Homo sapiens: one gene and its partners. The protein of the gene in region 1 purifies or fractionates together with the protein of each later gene. This does not show direct contact. Each region holds a gene or a part of one and is shown on either strand. Other genes may lie near its edges. The genes, in order: SPAST, HEATR3 and NUP37.

Region 1 (3,657 bases):
GTTGATCTGCTACACAAGAAACCTTAATAAATGCTATACTAATATATTTATTACTTGTGTTTAGTTTCATAGGTATTAACATTTGAAAGCATAATATTTTTCCAATATAAAAACAAAACACAATCATTTATAGAAAAGTTCAAAAATACAGACAAAGAGAAAAAAAGAATCACAATTTCACCACTCAGATATGCAACCTCCCCCTCCAAGGTTCAAGCAATTCTTCTGTCTCAGCCTCCCGAGTAGCTGGGATTACAGGCACATGCCTCCATGCCCAGCTAATTTTTGTATTTTTAGTAGAGACAGGGTTTCGCCATGATGGCCAGGTTGGTCCTGAACTCCTAACCTCAGGTGATCCGCCCACCTTGGCCTCCCAAAGTGCTGGGATTACAGACGTGAGCCACTTTGCCCAGCCTAAAGTATGCATTTTTATATTAATTTGGTCTTATTTTCTGATCTTTTAAATTGCCTTTGGAAATATAGATTAAAACAATGCTGAGTTAATGAATATCTATATTTACACCTAAGTATTTTTAAAAGGCAAAATGGATAGGTTCACAGAGTCCAGGCAATAGAAAAATTAATAAAAATTTTGGCCAAGCACGGTGGCTCACACCTGTAATCCCCGCACTTTGGGAGGCCAAGGCGGGTGGATCACCTGAGGTCAGCAGTTCGAGACCAGCCTGGCCAACATGGTGAAACCCCGTCTCCACTAAAAATACAAAAATTAGCCAGGCAGGTGCCTGTAATCCCAGCTACTCAGGAGGCTGAGGCAGGAGAATCGCTTGAACCTGGGAGGTGGAGGTTGTAAGTGAGCCGAGATCGTGCCATTGCACTCCAGCTTGGGCAATGAGTGAGACTCCCTCTCAAAAAAAAAAAAAAAAAAAAAAATTAAGGCAAAATGCAGTTTGGCATAAATGACCTGTGTTAAAAATCATTTCTAGCGTATACCTGTATTTTGGCCCAAAAATAAGAAGTTAAAGAACTTTAAACAAAACTCCAACAACTGGTATTTATCCGTATTTTAAAAACTACTCTTAAAAACCCAATCTAACTTCATATCATCTTTGATATCTCCATGAGATATCACCTACACTTGTAACTTGTAAACTAATCTGAAAAATTTTAGCCAAAAAGAAAAAAACATATAGTTAAAATATAGGCTGGCTGCAGTGGCTCGCACCTGTTAATCCCAGAACTTTGGGAGGCTGAAGCAAGTGGATCACTTGAGCCCAGGAGTTAGAGACCAGCCTGGGCAACATGGCAAAGCCTCATCTCTACAAAATGTACAAAATTTAGCTAGGCATGGTGGCGCACGCCTGTAGTCTCAGCTACTAGGGAAGCTGAGGTGGGAGGATCACTTGAGTCTGGGAGGTTGAGGCTGCAGTGAGCCATGAGCATGCCAATGTATTTCAGCCTGGGAGACAGAGTGATACCCTGTCTCAAAAAAAAAAACCCCAAAAACCCAGCAACCCCCCACCAAAGAAAACCCCATAAGCACTATATGAACCCTACTTGTTTCCTATTTAACTGTAACACACACACTGCCTCTTCCTAAAGGCCAAAGTGTAGAAGAATAATGAATGTAACATGGGTATTAAACATGATATTACTAAATAAAATTTATTTGTTATAGAAATTAATATTTTTGTTTTGAGACAGGGTCTCACTGTTACCCAGGCTGGAGTGCAGTGGCATGATCTCGGCTCACTGCAACCTCTGCCTCCCAGGCTTAAGAGATCCTCCCAAGTAGCTAGGACTATAGGTGTGCGCCACCACGCCCAGCTAACTTTTTGTAATTTTTGTAGAGATGAGGATTTCACCATGTTATCCAGGCTGGTCTCGAATTCCTGAGCTCAAGGGATCCAATGGCCTGAGCCTCCCAAAGTGCTGGGATTATAGGCATGAACAACCACGCCTGGCCAGAAATTAAGGTTTTAAAAGATGTTGATGTAATTGTACTTTAAGTCTATAGTTTGATATGTGTATATATATGAAACTTATATGATATTTTAACGTAAGAGACTAATGTATACAACAGGAAAAAGGCAGATGGTAGCTGGTTCAGTTAAGGGGGGAAATAAGTAGAAAAGTTGTCTTATCAAACCAAAATAATAAAGGACTTAAAGTTAAATTAGATACACAAGGTACTTAAAAAACAAAGTATATTGTACCCCAATTTATAACCAACAATTTTAGTACTAACCTTAAAAATACAGAAATTCCAAACCAATTATTTGAACTTCTACTATTATAAACTGTAAAAGATAAGTTGGGTTTTTCTTTTTTTTTTTTTTGGAGATGGAGTCTCGCTCCTGTCGCACAGACTGGAGTGCAGTGGTACGATCTCAGCTCACTGCAACCTCCACCTCCCCAGGTTCAAGCAATTCTCCTTCCTCAGCCTCCCGAGCAGCTGGGATTACAGGCATGTGCCACCACGCCCGGCTAATTTTTGTATTTTTAGTGGAGACGGGGTTTCGCCACGTTGGCCAGGCTGGTCTCGAACTCAAGACCTCAGGTGATCCAACTGCCTCGGCCTCCCAAAGTGGTAGGATTACAGGCGTGAGCCACTGTGTGCGACCAAGTTGGGTTTTCCTTACCTAAATTTATATATATTCACCGGTAACTGACAATACACTTTGGTATTAAAGTTGCATCAAATAATGGGTATATAAAATTCTAGTATACAGTTTTAGAGAGCAAACTACTTGTGTTTACGTCTCATCCCATAAATGGAAATGAGAGAATGGATTACCTTAATCTCTATAATAAAATGCCACTATCAGTTTTATATTTTTTAAAGTTATTTAATGGATCTTTACATAGTGTTTACTACGTGCCAGCTACTTTAAGTGCTTTATAAATATTAACTCATAAGTAAGCAATAACAGCTAAAGGTCATTATCAAATTATTAATACCAAAACCACTAGATTAAAAAGAAACAACTGAATGAAAGTATATAGTAGAGCCAGGCATGGTGGCTCACACCTGCAATCCCAGCACTTTGGGAGGCCGAGGTGGGCGGATCTCCTGAGGTTGGGAGTTCCAGATCAGCCTGACCAACATAGTGAAACCCCGTCTCTACAAAAACACAAAATTAGCCAGGCATAGTGGCGCATGCCTGTAATCCCAGCTACTCAGGAGGCTGAGGCAGGAGAATCACTTGAACCCAGGAGGCGGAGGTTGCAGTGAGCCGAGATTGCACCATTGCACTCCAGCCTGGGCAACAACAGCGAAACTCAGTCTCAAAAAAAAAAGTATACAGTAGAACCAAATATTGTAACAATATAACCTGAATATATATAATTAATGGGATGCTCACAAAAGGGACCAGTAATATTCTTCCTTGTAAATCACTCAGTAGTTTTATTAAGCTTTAATTTTTAGTTTTACCATCTAAATTTTTAATAAATAATGTTATGACTTTTAAAAAATGGTGGATAAAATTATATTTTTAGGTGTGGGATTAAAAATTTCAAGTCTGGCACGGTGTCACACCTGTAATCCCAGCATTTTGGGAGGTGCAAGTGGGAGGAATGCTTGAGGAATCTGAGACCAGCCTAGGCAACATAGTGAGACCCCATCTCTACAAAAAATTAAAAATTTAGCTGAGTGTGGTGGTACATGCCCGTAGTCCCAGCAACTCAAAAGGCTGA
Region 2 (3,657 bases), on another chromosome or scaffold:
CACCCACCATTTTTATCGATGAAGGAACTAACACCCATTCACATTCACTGTACATGAGAACTGGCTATCTATATTTTATTTCTATCACAATGGGACCTTTTCATCAATCTCTTTGCCATGATGCCAGTTTCCTTATAGAAGGTTAGAGCTGGAAGAGATCTTGTAAATCGTTTAATTCAACTCCCCATTTTATAAATGTGAAGACCCAGGCCCCAAGTGGTAAAGTGGCCCATCAAAGAGCACACATTTTGTTAGTGGTAGAGCCAGGCCCAGTACCTAGGTTCCCTGGGTCCAGGCTACTGTTTTTTCTTTCCTCCATACCACAATGATAACAAGTTAAAGGAGGATAAAAGGCCTCTATATTTATCACACAAAAACACAAATTTATTTTTTATTTTTTAACCTACTATATTTTAGAACATTAACAAAAACACACATTTAAAGGAAAATAAAATTATATTTTATTCAAGCCTTTTAGAGTGCAATTATAATTTCATCAAGCAGAATTTGCAGTCTACAATAGAGAAATTACAATAAGTATTTTTTAAATTATACTACCTTTTAATAAAAGACTCAGCTTTCAGTGTTATGAATAAGCAAACACATTAAATACGAGTTAACAAGGCTAATTGTAATAATTGTATCCATGTTTCCAGAGGAAATATCCATGTTGTACATGTTTCCTCCATACATATAACATACACACATGACACGCTAACAGAGCTGACTAAATTATTAAACTAAATCTGTTATGTAATGAAAAATATTTCATATCTTCTATCTACCTACCTACCTACCTATCTAGTTATGGCAGCATGAAGGAGCCCACAGTCTAGTCAGGAAGACAAGGCATATATGTGTAAAGATAATTTGAAATATAAATGATGAAACAAAAATGTTAAAAGTTATAGTAACTCAGTGATACAGACAGGGCTCATAGGTATTCAGAAAAGAGAAATCACCTTGGAGATATATTCAGATTCTTTTCAAGGAAATTTTTTAAAAACTTCCAAATGCAACAATTTCTATGACTTAAAGTTATCTGGTGCACAGAAAAACAGCACCCATCAGTTTTTGCTCAAATGCCATTTCCTCAGATCTGATCTCTCTAATATTTCTGGTGGAATGCATTCATTAAAATGAAATCACAGGCAAGGTCAGATTGCCACGTAGGCATTTCAGGATCCAACTTAATCTTGTATTCTAAGAAACATCTGTGCTTTTAGGTCAGCCACTGTAATTGCTGCTGACTGAAGATAAGAAACTGTGACAGAGTCTTGCTAGAAATGTGGGACATAAAATGGGGCAGAAAAAAGTAAATCCAGGTTGTGTTTCTAGCCATTTCCATTCCTAGCGGCAAGTCCACTCCACCCTCACCACTGCTACAATCACAGAATGGAGAGTGGCCTTCTTCCTCCTGGGGCCAAGGGAGCTCTTCTTAGGCATCTACTTCCCAATCAGACAGTAAGTGCCAGGAAAGAGAAAGAAAAGCACCAGCCAAGGTCTGTGGTCCCCATCTCAGTCTAGAGGCCAAACCAAAGCTGCACCTGCATGTGGGACTGACCAGCTTAAAGACAAATTCTGCTCAGGGTGTACAAGAAGTCGGGGGAAAGGAGGAGCCACAGGTGCTAATGGTCATGATTCCTCCTATCTTTTGTCAGATGCAATGACTGGAGAGGAAAGCCGTAAAACAAAAGATGTAGTGATGCAGTAAGAAAACGGACTGGGAAGGAGGGTTGATCTTAGGTCACTTGATCCTGCCTCTTACCAAGTCTTTTTTTTTTTTGAGACAGGAATTTCGCCCTGTCCCCCAGGCTGGAGTGCAGTGGCACGATCTTGGCTCACTGCAAGCTCTGCCTCCAGGGTTCAAGCGATTCTCCTGCCTCAGCCTCCCGAGTAGCTGGGATTATGGGCATGTACCACCACACTCGGCTAATTTTTTAATATTTTTGGTAGAGACGGGGTTTCACAGTGTTGGCCAGGCTGGTCTCAAACTCCCGACCTCAAGTGATCCACCCGCCTCGGCCTCCCAAAGTGCTGGGATTACAGGCATGAGCCACCATGTCCGGCCCCTACCATGTCTTAACATCCCAGATTAACAGGCCTACCAAGGGGAACAGAGATTCCTACACAGTATAACAGAGAATAGCAGCCTGGGTACTGCTATAGCAGGAGACTGTGTTTGGTAGGCATCTTACCATATATTCCACAGCACGTTCACAGTCTCATTGGCTATGTTCTCAATAGAATTTCTGTTCTGATCTTTTTTCTCCTGCAGAGACATCTCATTTGAATCCAGTCCAGCACTACACTGTAACCAAATATCATGATTAGCACCCTGGTTCCTAAGAAGAATTAAACAAATAGGGTAATGATGGTGATGAAACACAAAGGCTAGACATCAGAAATTACCGTGGTTAACAAGCCAGTCGAATCCTTACAAACAGTAGTACAAAATCAATACAAAGTATTTTACCTAATAAATGTAATAAAAGACAGTAGGAAGGCAACAAAAGATGAAATAAGAGCTTCTACCTAGCACCTTCTGTTTATTACATAGCGCCTTCTAAAGTACTATTCTAAGCATTTTACATGTATCAAGTCATTTAATCCTCACAATAAACCTATGAGGTAGGTGAACTATTATTATCCCCAATCTCCAGCTGCAAATGGGAAAGTGAGGTACAGGGAGGCTGCTGAAGGTGTTAGATTAGCATGTGGTGAAGCTGGGATTCAGGCCCTAGCATTTGACTCCAAAGCTGGTGCTCTTAAGCCCCTCTAGTACAGCCCAGGAGACCCTCTAAAGCAGGGCTTCTCAATCCAGGTACTACTGAAATTCTCCACCAGAAAATTCTTTGTTGGGGAAGGAAGGGCTGTCGTGTGCATTTGGGGATGTTTAGCAGCATCCCTGGCCTCTACCCACTGGATGCCAGTGGCAAACCCCACAAGCTCTGTAACAACCAATGTCTCCAGACATTGCCAGTTATGCCCTGTGAAGCAAGATCATACCCAGTTGAGAATCACTGCTCTAAAATGACTGATGCCTCTCATCAAAACTGGATATCCTTTATGTAGCCTTAAGTGAAAATTACCCATCAGTACAGAATAGAGGACCAGAGGCACTCCAGAGACAGAGCTCCTTAACCTCTTGACTATGTCATGCAATAAGACTGGAATGAGATCAAACATGAGAACTTACTGTAATCTTCACAAGTTCCTAATGTCTGTGCCTCGGCTTTGTCATCTGTAAAATGGGAATAATACCTGCCTCATAGAATACTGTGAGGATTAAATTATATAATATCCAAAACATGAAAATAATACCTGGCACATAAATAAGCAATGACTAAATACTAATTATTTTTATTGTAAGAAGTTTAACATCTAAAGGAGTGAGTCTGTACAATTTTAGGAAAGTCTTTTCCAACTATCATAAAAATAAAGCTACAAAATAATAGAGATTAGTATCAATAATGAGAGCAGATTGGTGTTTCCAGGAAAAGGAATGAAATTTCCATAAGATGTTTAGATAGAAGACAAAGTCACCAACACCAAAGTACTAAAAAAAGTCTAAGTTTGCATCCCAAAAGCTACCATCAAGATACTGTAAAAACTGCATACCTCTTTTAGCAGCGCAACCAGAGGGGTCATGATATC
Region 3 (3,657 bases), on another chromosome or scaffold:
CTCACTACTTAACAAACACACACAGGATGGACTTCACCATCTAATGCCTTCATTTACATGCTCAATGTGACTGCTAGCAGTGAAGACAGCTAGTTGTTATAAGCCCATAGTTATCACCAACACAAAAAATCTCGACACAGAAGCAACAAATGAGAAGTTGCACAGTGGAGGACTGTGTGAGCAGATAAAGTTCAATCTGTCTAAATCTTCATAGTTGAAATCCTAAATAGGCCTGTCAGATAATTACTTTAATGGTTATCATTCTTTCTACCCTTCCTTCTTTCCAAAAACTCAAATTTGATCTCAGTTCTGAGGTTATTAAAGCAGTTCTATATAGTACTGCTCACTATGTAGAAATGTAATATTAAAAAAAAAACAAAAAACAAAAAGATTTGGGTCAAACATTCCTGAGCAACTTTAACAAACCCAGGTCCTCCAAATCATTCTCCAAAGCTTCTGTCACAGTCTACAAGACAAACTAAATTAACCGTAAATGTTTAATGTGTATTATAACTAGCATATTAACTTTGGATAGGTCAAAATTTTATGTGCCATTTATATACTTGGTTATTTCTGGTACAGCCTTAAATTAACCAATCCATACAGTACATTAAGCCCACTGTAAATAGCTTACAGCATAATTTTTACTATTTTCTAAATGATTGGAAAGGTTTGTAATTTATCTTTGTTTTATAACAATATTCATATTTTGGCTTATTAGAAAGCCAAGAAGGCAATACCATTCTTAAAAGAAAACATGATGCAATTTTGACCCAATCTGAGGGTTATTATTATAGTAATAGAAAACACACATACGGCGTTTACTATGTATCAACATTATTCTAAGCGTTTTATATGAATTTGCTCAGTCAATGCTCATAATCCTATAAGGCAGCTGCTATGATTACCCACATTTTACAGGTAAGGATATTAGCACAAAGAGATTAGGTTACTTAACCAAGGTCACACCACGACTAAGTAATAACACTGGAGTTTAAATGCAAGGAATCTGGCTTCTGTGTCTGTGCTCTTAACCGCTTTGGAATTCTGCCTGTGCTATGCTGTACTGATCATTTGTTCCCATGAAGTTCAACTCTTACTCTATGAATGGTCATGTCTATTATACTCCTACTATATCCAACTGTAAATTTCTAGTTTTCTTATTTGTTGTTCCTACCTAATATTTCAATTTAATAAGAGATATCAGATTTATAATCTGCAGTCATTAAGAACTTAGTTCTTAATAATATAGTAAGCTAGTTATTATAACCTATAGTAGAGTAAATGAGACTCTAAATTATATACTTTAATGATGACCATAAAAAGCCATTTTAAATTGGAATAAATCCAATTAAAAAAGCAAAAAACAAACACGTTTTAAAATAAGCTCTAAAGATTTATATGGTTGTCAACATACCTTATATTCATTTTTATCCTGAAGATCTGAAGTAAATAATCTAATTTTCATATCAGCAGCTGAAGTACAAAATCTGGAAGCAAAAAAACAAAAATATACCAATTTTTAGCCTTTGTAAGTGAAAGGTCTCCCCCTCCCCCCCATCCTTCCCTTCAGATCACTGAAGCTTTTATCATAACTCATAATCATGCTTTTTATGGAGGGGGAAAGAAGAATGTTGTGGCTCTACTGTAAAAAGTATTATACAGCCATCACAGAAAGTAGGAGTCATATTATTTTATTTTGAGAACACACAAAAGGTTAGTCTATTCTGGATGTGCTTCTTCAGTAATAAAAGTGTAGAATTTTACACTAAATCAGCACTTGAATTTAATTTTAAACGTTTTCTTAAAAGCATAAAAGGATGGATTTTAAAAAGTATCTTCATTTTAGCCAGGTCACCAAGACATATTAAAAATATTGTTATACATCTACCTTAGTCTTTGCCCTCTTCTGTTATCCATAATCCTTAGTTTTTTCTATTCCTCCAAATAAATCAGATGAAGTAAGATACTATTTTTATAACTATAAAAGCTGATAATATTTATACCTACTAAAAGCTGGAGTATTATTTATACTTTAAACATTTAAAACATGTTTTTCAGTAGTTAATCAATGGATTATTAAATTAAAAAACAAAACCTAAGCAGCAAACACTCCTTTTTTTTTCCTTTGAGACAGACTTGCTCTGTTGCCCAGGCTGGAGTGCAGTGGTATGATTTCATACCACTGCAGCCTCCACCTCCCAGGTTCAAACGATTCTCCTACCTCAGCCTCCCAAGTAGCTGGGATTACAGGCGCCCACCACCACACGTGGCTAATTTTTGTATTTTTAGTAGAGACAGGGTTTCACCACGTTGGCCAGGCTGGTCTCGAACTCCTGACCTCAGATGATCCGCCCATCTTGGCCTCCCAAAGTGCTGGGATTACAGGCATGAGCCACTGCGCCTGGCCAACAACTACTTTTTAAACTAGTTTATCTTTAATCCTAAATTTTCTAGATTCTCAGGATGTGAGACAATGGCTGAGAAAAAAATTTAAATTATATTTATATACTGAAAAACAAAGTTTATTTTCAATTCTTTGGTAGAAAGAGTATCATACACAAATCTAAATTTATTCTTTAGTTTGAGTACAGTGAGCCATTTTTTCTCAACTAAAGGCTCTTAATCCACAGACCCTGATGTGTTGGTAGACCTTTGCTACTACACCCCTTTCCAGTAATTTGTCAAGAGTTGTTAGAGAAAACAGATCAAAGCCACCAGGGAATGATTCTTTGTCCAAGGTCTTCTCAGAGGCAAAATTAAAGTTGTAGTGGAATAAAGCATGTCTTCTTTCAAGAAATGTCTGTCTACTCAGGTTCTTTGCCCATTTTAAAATATAACTGTTTTCTTGTGATTGAGTAATTTGAGTTCCCTACATATTGTTGATATTAGCCCCTTATCAAGATGTATGATTTGCAAATATTTTCTCACAATCTGTAGGTTGCATCTTCACTCTGTTGTTTCCTTTGCTGTGCAGCTCTTTAGTTTAATACAATTCCACTTGTCTAGTTTTGCTTTTGTTTCCTGTGCTTTTAGGGTCAGATCCAAAAAATTCACTGTTGTGGAGATTAATGTTGTGAAGCTTTTTCTGTTTTCTTCTAGCCATTTTACAGTTTAAGGTCTTAAGTTTAAGTCTTTAATCCAATTTCAGTTGATTCTGCATATGGAGTGAAATAACGGTTCAATTTCATTCTTCTGTGTGTAAATACAGTTTTGCAACATCATTCATTGAAGACACTGTCCTTTCTTCATTTTATGTTCTTGGCACCTTTGTAAATAATCGATTGACCATAAATGCATGAATTTATTTCTGGGCTCTCTATCTTATTCTATTGGTCAAGGTATCTCTTTTTATGTTAGTACCATGCTGTCTTGAATACCATAGCTTTTATTTTGAAATCAGGTAGTGTGATGCCTCCGGGTTTGTTCTTTTTTTTGCTCAAAATTGCTTTGGCTATCTGGGGTGTTTTATAATTTCATATAAATTTTTTAATTGATTTTTCTATTTCTGTGAAGAATGACATTGGAGTTTTGATAGATAGGCATTGCATTGAATCTGTGGATTGCTTTGAGGAGTAAGAACATTTTAACAATATTAATTCATCCAATCCATGAACACAGGATATCTTTCCAATTATTTGTGCCAAGTTCAATGTC

Evidence for each region.
Region 2: the proteins of SPAST (region 1) and HEATR3 purify together in Homo sapiens (affinity purification with mass spectrometry, with the first as the bait; one large-scale study listed by BioGRID). This does not show direct contact.
Region 3: the proteins of SPAST (region 1) and NUP37 purify together in Homo sapiens (affinity purification with mass spectrometry; 2 studies listed by BioGRID and IntAct, with this or other methods). This does not show direct contact.

What each region holds. Positions count from the first base shown.
Region 1 is NC_000002.12:32,150,553-32,154,209, reverse strand, and holds part of SPAST (spastin), read right to left. Parts: intron 1-3,657. UniProt on the Homo sapiens protein: ATP-dependent microtubule severing protein that specifically recognizes and cuts microtubules that are polyglutamylated.
Region 2 is NC_000016.10:50,068,832-50,072,488, reverse strand, and holds part of HEATR3 (HEAT repeat-containing protein 3), read right to left. Parts: coding exon 3,622-3,657; intron 2,312-3,621; coding exon 2,199-2,311; intron 1-2,198. UniProt on the Homo sapiens protein: Plays a role in ribosome biogenesis and in nuclear import of the 60S ribosomal protein L5/large ribosomal subunit protein uL18 (RPL5). Required for proper erythrocyte maturation.
Region 3 is NC_000012.12:102,099,615-102,103,271, forward strand, and holds part of NUP37 (nucleoporin Nup37), read right to left. Parts: intron 1,491-3,657; coding exon 1,418-1,490; intron 1-1,417. UniProt on the Homo sapiens protein: Component of the Nup107-160 subcomplex of the nuclear pore complex (NPC). The Nup107-160 subcomplex is required for the assembly of a functional NPC.